Homo sapiens: one gene and its partner. The protein of the gene in region 1 interacts with the protein of each later gene in a pairwise test. Each region holds a gene or a part of one and is shown on either strand. Other genes may lie near its edges.

Region 1 (3,656 bases):
CCCACCCTCCAGAGATTGTGTAATGGATTCACCTGGAGTAGAGCCTGGGCATCAGTAGTTTTGTAAAAGCTCCCCAGGTGATTCCAAAGCATAGCCACAGCTGAGCAACAATGAGTTAAATCAACCCTGATGTTCAATACAGTGTCTGATGCAGCCGAACGGTCTATACATCCACAGAAGGGAGAAAAAAAGGCATAGCCAGAATTTCTAAGTGAAAAGAATACCAAATCCATGTTTTAAAGTGAAATGGAGGCATCTCCGCTGGGGCAAGACCTGTCACATGTTTGCTATTCCTAGAAAGACCTGCAATTAGCTGCCAACAGATGCATTATTTCATCAGTCCCATAAATACTCGATGAAAGTCTTCCGCTTTTCCTTTATGTCAGCCTTGCAGAGGTAGGAAGAAAAAAATCTTGTGACAAAATGCAGTACTGAACGATCATCATTTCCTTTTAAATGATTAAAATTAGCATTCATAAAAATAAAATATTTTAGTGAAATCTCATTCCAGCATACCTCTAAAGGCCCTTGGAAATTCTCCTCTTAAAATGAAAAAAAAAAAAATGCATTAGTACAATTTTTAAAAAGCCTCTTTCAATTATTAACACTGCAGCATAATACAATTCCATTTCAAACTCAGTGGGAAGCCAAGATTGCGCAGCAGAAAAAGTCCTAAATCAAGAGTTGCAAAGCCTGGATTCTAGTCCCAGTAATAAATTACATTAACTAGCTGTGTGATCATGGGCAAGTTGACTTAATCTCCCTAGGCCTCTGTTTTCTCAGAGAAAAATTAGATGACCTGTGAGTCCCACCCAGTTCTAAAATTCATAATACCAGGATATGGCTCCATCTTGCTGACTTTGTTTCACTAGCAAGTAAATGTGTTTAAAATTTAGAGAACTTACGAATTTTGAAATTCTAGTTAATTTAACTAATTCCTATCACTGGGCATAAATTGAAAGAGCAAAACTGTGAAGCATCATGAAAACAGCTCTATCTACTATCTATACTAGAACTGGAGCCTTCCTGCTTTAACTATGCCAGCCAGGTGATGGCTCCTCCCCCAAATGCCTGTCTTTCTTTTTAAATTAAAAAAATATATGATGAAAAGCAACTTTTGGCCACATCCTCACACCATTATTATTTTCTTTTCTTTTTTTTTTTTTTTTTTTTTGGGGGGGATGGAGTCTCACTCTGTTGCCCAGGCTGGAGTGCAGTGGCACAATCTCGGCTCACTGCAACCTCCACCTCCTGAGTTCAAGCAATTCTCCTGCCTCAGCCTCCTGACTAGCTAGGATTACAGGTGCCTGCCACCACACCCGGTTAATTTTTTGTATTTTTAGTAAAAATGGGGTTTCACCATGTTGGCCAGGCTGGTCTCAAACTCCTGACCTCAAGTGATTCACCCGCCTCAGCCTCCCAAAGTGTAGGGATTACAGGCATGAGCCACTACACCCAACCATTATTTCCGTTGGTTTTGTTTTTTAGACGAAGTTTCGCTCTTGTCCCCCAGGCTGGAGTGCAATGGCGCGATCTCAGCTCACTACAACCTCCACCTGCCAGGTTCAAGCGATTCTCCTGCCTCAGCCTCCCAAGTAGCTGGGATTCCAGGCGCCTGCCACCACGCCTGGCTAATTTTTGTATTTTAAGTAGAGATGGGGGTTTCACCATGTTGGCCAGGCTGGTCTCAAACTCCTGACCTCAGGTGATCTGCCCGCCTCGGCCTCCCAAAATGCTGGGATCACAGGAGTGAGCCACTGTGCCTGGCCTATTTTTTTATAGTCTCCTTTATGTTGACACATTTCTACTTAAATGTAAGTAATGGTTTTTTCCTAAATAATTTGGTATACTTTCAATCTTATTTCCTATTCAATATTCCTATGAACATTTTTCTTTTTATTTTTGGTTGATACATAAAAATTGTATATATTTATGGGATACAGGGTAACATTTCAATACATGCATACAATGTGTAATGATCAAATAAGGGCAATCAGTATATCCATCATGTCAAACATTTATTCTTTCTTTGTGCTGGGAATATTCAAAATCCTCTCTTCTAGCATTTTGAAAACACATAATAAATTCCTGTTAACCATATTCACCCTACAGTGCTAGGACATTAGAACTTATTCCACCCATCTAGCTGTAATTTTGTATCCATTAACCAACCTCCCCATCCCTGCCTCCCTCATACCCTTCCCAGTCCCTAATAACCACAATTCTAGTCTCTAAAAGTCATGTATTTTTAAAAGGAACTTCGTAAATAGAAAAGTTTTGCTTGCCATAAATGGAAGGAACCCATTAAGTTGACACAAAAAAAGCAATACAACTAGATTCTAGCTAAATACTGTTGCCCACAGAAGGCTTTAAGCATGAGGACCTCCTATCATTCTTACCGAACTGAAACAGAAATAGAAAGGAAATAACTTTCTCATCATGTAATTCAATATTACTTAATCCCACATCCACGTATCAACTAAAGTCATGCTACGAGCCACACAAGATCACGGCTGCACACACATCTCACATGTTGAGAGCAAAACAAAAGGTAGCCACTGAGCCTCTGCTGATGTGGAATGTGATTCATCCCAGGGAGGAAGGTGTCTTATTAGCCACATTGTCACCTGTGGCTCCCACTTGACTTCCTGTGTATTTGTGGTCCCCTCTATCTGAAAGCTCTCCTCCCTGTATCAACTCTGCAGCCAAACTCAGTTCTCTGCTCAGTGTCCCCTCATCAGAGAGGCTTTCCCTGACCACCCCCACCACCACACATACCGCTTCTCTTCATAGCGCTCTTCACCACCAAATGTTATTTATTCATTTGCTTATTATCTGTCCCTGCCCTTATCCCCTCCCTCTACTAGAATACATTGAACTCCATGAAAATAAGGGCTTTGTTTTGTTTACTGTTATATCTCCAGCACCTACTGTCTTGCACAGGGGTCCCCAACTCCCATACCGGTCCGTGGCCTATTAGGAACCGGATCGCAGAGCAGGAGGTAAGTGGCAGGCAAGCGAGGATTACCACCTGAGCTCCTCCTCCTATTGGATCAGCAGTGGCATTAGACTCTCATAGGAGCATGAACCTATTGTGAACTGCACATGCCAGAGATCGAGGTCGCGCACTCCTTATGAGAATCTAATGCCTGGTAATAATCTAAGGTGGAACAGTTTCATCCCGAAACCATCATTCCCCCCAACTCTCCCGTTGGTTGAAAAATTGTCTTCCACAAAACCAGTCTCTGACGCCAAAAAGGCTGGGGACCTCTGGTTTAGCACATGGTCAAGACTCAGCAAATATTTGCTGGATGAACGCATGAATGCCCTCAACTGATCTGGAGATCCTCCATTTGTCTTTATATACCCAGTACCTGGCATTCAGTAGGTCCTTAGGAAGTATATGAAAATCGGGCTGGGTATACACAGAAACCTGGGCCCTCTGCAGACTCTCCCTTTACCGAGGGAAGGGTCTTGCTATGGATACTGACCCACTGTTCTCACTCTAGCACACAGGACGCCACTAGGCAAACACTACTCAGTCACAGTGGAAGCACATGGATAGACTGCAAGCTAGATACACTGAGACCAACACTGAACTTACATGCAGAGCAAGGTCAATTACGTGGTATGATTGGAGGAACCTATGAAAAGAA
Region 2 (3,249 bases), on another chromosome or scaffold:
ATTGTGGTTATAGTTTTCTTCTTTTTGCCCTGACTTTTACTTTATTGCCACTCTCATGGTGCTGCCCTGTAAGACCCTCTCCTCATTGGCTGCTTCTTTGATGCAGTAGATTATCCTTAAAGCAAGAGTCAATAAACTTTGGGGGTGTTTTAAGAGACAGCCTTTTGAGAAACATGCATGAGCTTTAGAGAATGAATTGTGTGACCTCCACTGCGACTAGTCTGTGGCCATTTATCCTCAATGATTTGGGTTTATCTTCAGATAATTGAAAGGTGCTAGATAACATGAGCTCTGAATAATAATAAGGCCTCTGAGGCCTTAGAGGTTTATTGTCTTCATTAGCACACTATTTAAATTTCTAGTGTCAATACCAATCATTTGCTTGATATATTTGGTTTTATTGTTTTTTCTCTTAGTGATCCCTGTCAATTAATCATAATTCAGTTCACCAGGAGTAAGTTTTTCCACATAAAGACCACTTTTGATCAAGACACAATGTTATATTTAAGTTATTAATTGACAGTCAACAACTTATTTATTAATATGGATTCATTAGCAAATGTGCCAATTAGTTTTCTTGTCTTCAGTTTTAACACATACAATAGTAACCCCGAAAGAAACTCACAGATTAACAAAAAAGAACAACACTCTAGGACTTGGCACGATTATTCCATAGGAAGAAAATTTATTTCATGTTGTGAGTGCAAATTTTAGTAACAATTCTGTTGAAGTCACTTTTCTAGGACTCTGTTTCCAAAGCAATTAGTTCAGCTATTCAAGATGAAACACATTATTTATCAAGATGTGATATTTTGAAATGTCACAGGAGAGAAACACATGACAAAAGGCAACACATTTGTTTAATTTCATTAGTTACAAGCGAACTTCTAGGTAAGTCATGATTTTCGATGTTTATAATATTTCTATTAAGATGTGCAGGTCTCAATGATAGTGATGAGTGGGTATGGCTGTGGAGAGATTCCAGGTGAGTCCAGCAGGGACCATCTGTGGGGACCCATTAACGACACTTCACAATCTTAAAACAACAAAGAGCTTTTATTTCATGGTGTGGTTTATGAGCATTCAGAAGTAATGTCATCTCTGCTTGGAGACTTTTCTAGCAGGACATTAGGGGGCTATCATCACAGGTAACCTGGAGAGTACATCTGTAGATAAAGATCCTGACTATTTTAAGTAAAGAAGAATTATTGGGGAAAAGAAGCTTTATGTCCAGTGATCAACAGGGCTGGAAAGAGCTGGCAGTTTCAGAAAAGAAGAAACCTCTCTTGACAGCTTTAGTATCATACCGTGGACTGGAAATGGCAAAAATCATCCCTAAAGACAAGCGAAGTGTTTTGAAGTGACTCTTCATAGTGAAGTAGCAACTCTAAATAGCCAAAATTTGCAACCATCGTTTACTCTTTTATATAAACACGAATCTGTTTTTGGCCTGATATAACAGCTGGGTAGATCTAGTAATTAAATGAATGATTCAGATCCAGGCGAGTATGTTTACTTAATTGAATTTTTGGCTCAGACATCATAATCAAAAGTGAAACAAAGGAAAAATTTCCTGGGTCATGTGTCTAGGCTTCAAGGACTAGGAGTCAGCAGCCCTACAAAATAGGAAAAACAGATTCTACTTACTTAGTGCTCTTCTTTCTCTTTATCTTAGAAATATATATTTGAGGGAAAGGGATGTACTAGAGTTTTAAAATTGGAAGAAGCTATTGGACTCCTTCATTTCTACAGATTTAAGTCCCATAGTTAATTAGTGTCCAGCCTGTTTTATTAATCAACAGGGGATTGAGTGTGCTCTGCCCATAATTCCCACTTATTGCTACTCAGAAAGACTTCCTAGAGTTCACATCTTTTATGCTATGAGGCTGGCCAAGAAGAGCAATTCTTAGTTTGCTAGGCCACATAAGCTGAAATCTTGCCAGTTTTTCCAGGCAACACATAATAGCTTGGTCACATCAGGTGGATTCTTGTGAAGAGATGATTAATAGGTTGAGTTAAAAAACAAAACAAAGCAAAACAAAACTTAAAGCTAATTCTTACCCTCCTTCATGTCTCATAATAGCTGTTTCTTGTATGACAGCTAGCTGTGTTTGGCTTTTCAGTTTTAAGGAAATCAAGTTCTCTTTGTATCAGGGAACATCTAGTTGAACTGAGCCAACGTGGGACTGATTTTATCTTGTGGTCACCAACCAAATTAATAGCATTTTCCATTTGCTGAATCTTTAGTATGAAATGTTATACAAAACTGAGAAGCTCTATATTGACATAGCTCAGTTAATATTTACTGAACATCCTACACAATGACATCTCTGGACTTGGCATCAAGAAAGTCTTCTAGATAGTGTAGATTATTTTGATTTCACCTGGCATTCAAATATGCTGGTAGCCTAACTTCCTTCTTGGGGGCAATGATTAGGTTAATACTAATCACTCTCCAGAGATAAACTCTTGCCCCATGAAACATTGAAACATCGCCTGCACAAGAGTGAGGGCAGCTATGTGTTGGGGGTGTCATGGGATTGGAATGCATATTCAAGAAACTATTATTTTGTAAGTTCCCCTACCATTGTGAGTAGTGTAGTGTTAACTTACAAAACCGTTTGCATATACTCTTCTGAGATTTGGCCTTGCTTCTTTGGGGTTAGATGGGAGTTTTCAATCAGTTCATAGACATCTTCCATGTTGTGGAGACCCTGCCTCATCTCGTGGGTAACCTTTTGAACCTGAATATCAGTGCTGTTCTTTGGAGGAACCCTCTGCCCCCGGTATGCCTGAGCCTGGCGTTTACAGATGCCAAACTTGCTGAGTAGGATGAACACATCCCTCTGGAAGGCCTTGGTGAAAATAGCATAGAGGAATGGATTGGCACAGGAGTTAAGTGGATAGAAGAGTACCAGCAAGATTTTGGAGTTGCTAACAGTGATGAGAGGCTTGTTCAGAATTGCTGACAGAGCATAGAATGAGATTGGGGCCATGCATATGAAGTCGGTGAAGATCAACACAGCCATCCTCTTGGCAATTTTGGTATCTTTGTCCCCTGGGTTGTACTGCGGATTTCGGACTGTGATGTAGATCTTCACATAACAGCAGCAGACGATGACGAAGGCAACTATGTTGAGCGTCAGAACAAAAACAATATATGCCAGAGCAAGAGGGGTCTCGGTGTCCATGGGCAGGCAGATACTGACTTTGGCATAGCTACTTATTCCCACCAAAGGAAGCAGGGCG

What was found. The genes of interacting proteins can lie anywhere in the genome.
Region 2: the proteins of CRADD (region 1) and TSHR interact in a two-hybrid assay, tested with the Homo sapiens proteins (one large-scale study listed by BioGRID and IntAct).

What each region holds. Positions count from the first base shown.
Region 1 is NC_000012.12:93,683,823-93,687,478, reverse strand, and holds part of CRADD (death domain-containing protein CRADD), read right to left. Parts: intron 1-3,656. UniProt on the Homo sapiens protein: Adapter protein that associates with PIDD1 and the caspase CASP2 to form the PIDDosome, a complex that activates CASP2 and triggers apoptosis.
Region 2 is NC_000014.9:81,143,714-81,146,962, reverse strand, and holds the end of TSHR (thyrotropin receptor isoform 1 precursor), read right to left. Parts: coding exon 2,610-3,249; 3' UTR 657-2,609; downstream 1-656. UniProt on the Homo sapiens protein: Receptor for the thyroid-stimulating hormone (TSH) or thyrotropin. Also acts as a receptor for the heterodimeric glycoprotein hormone (GPHA2:GPHB5) or thyrostimulin. The activity of this receptor is mediated by G proteins which activate adenylate cyclase.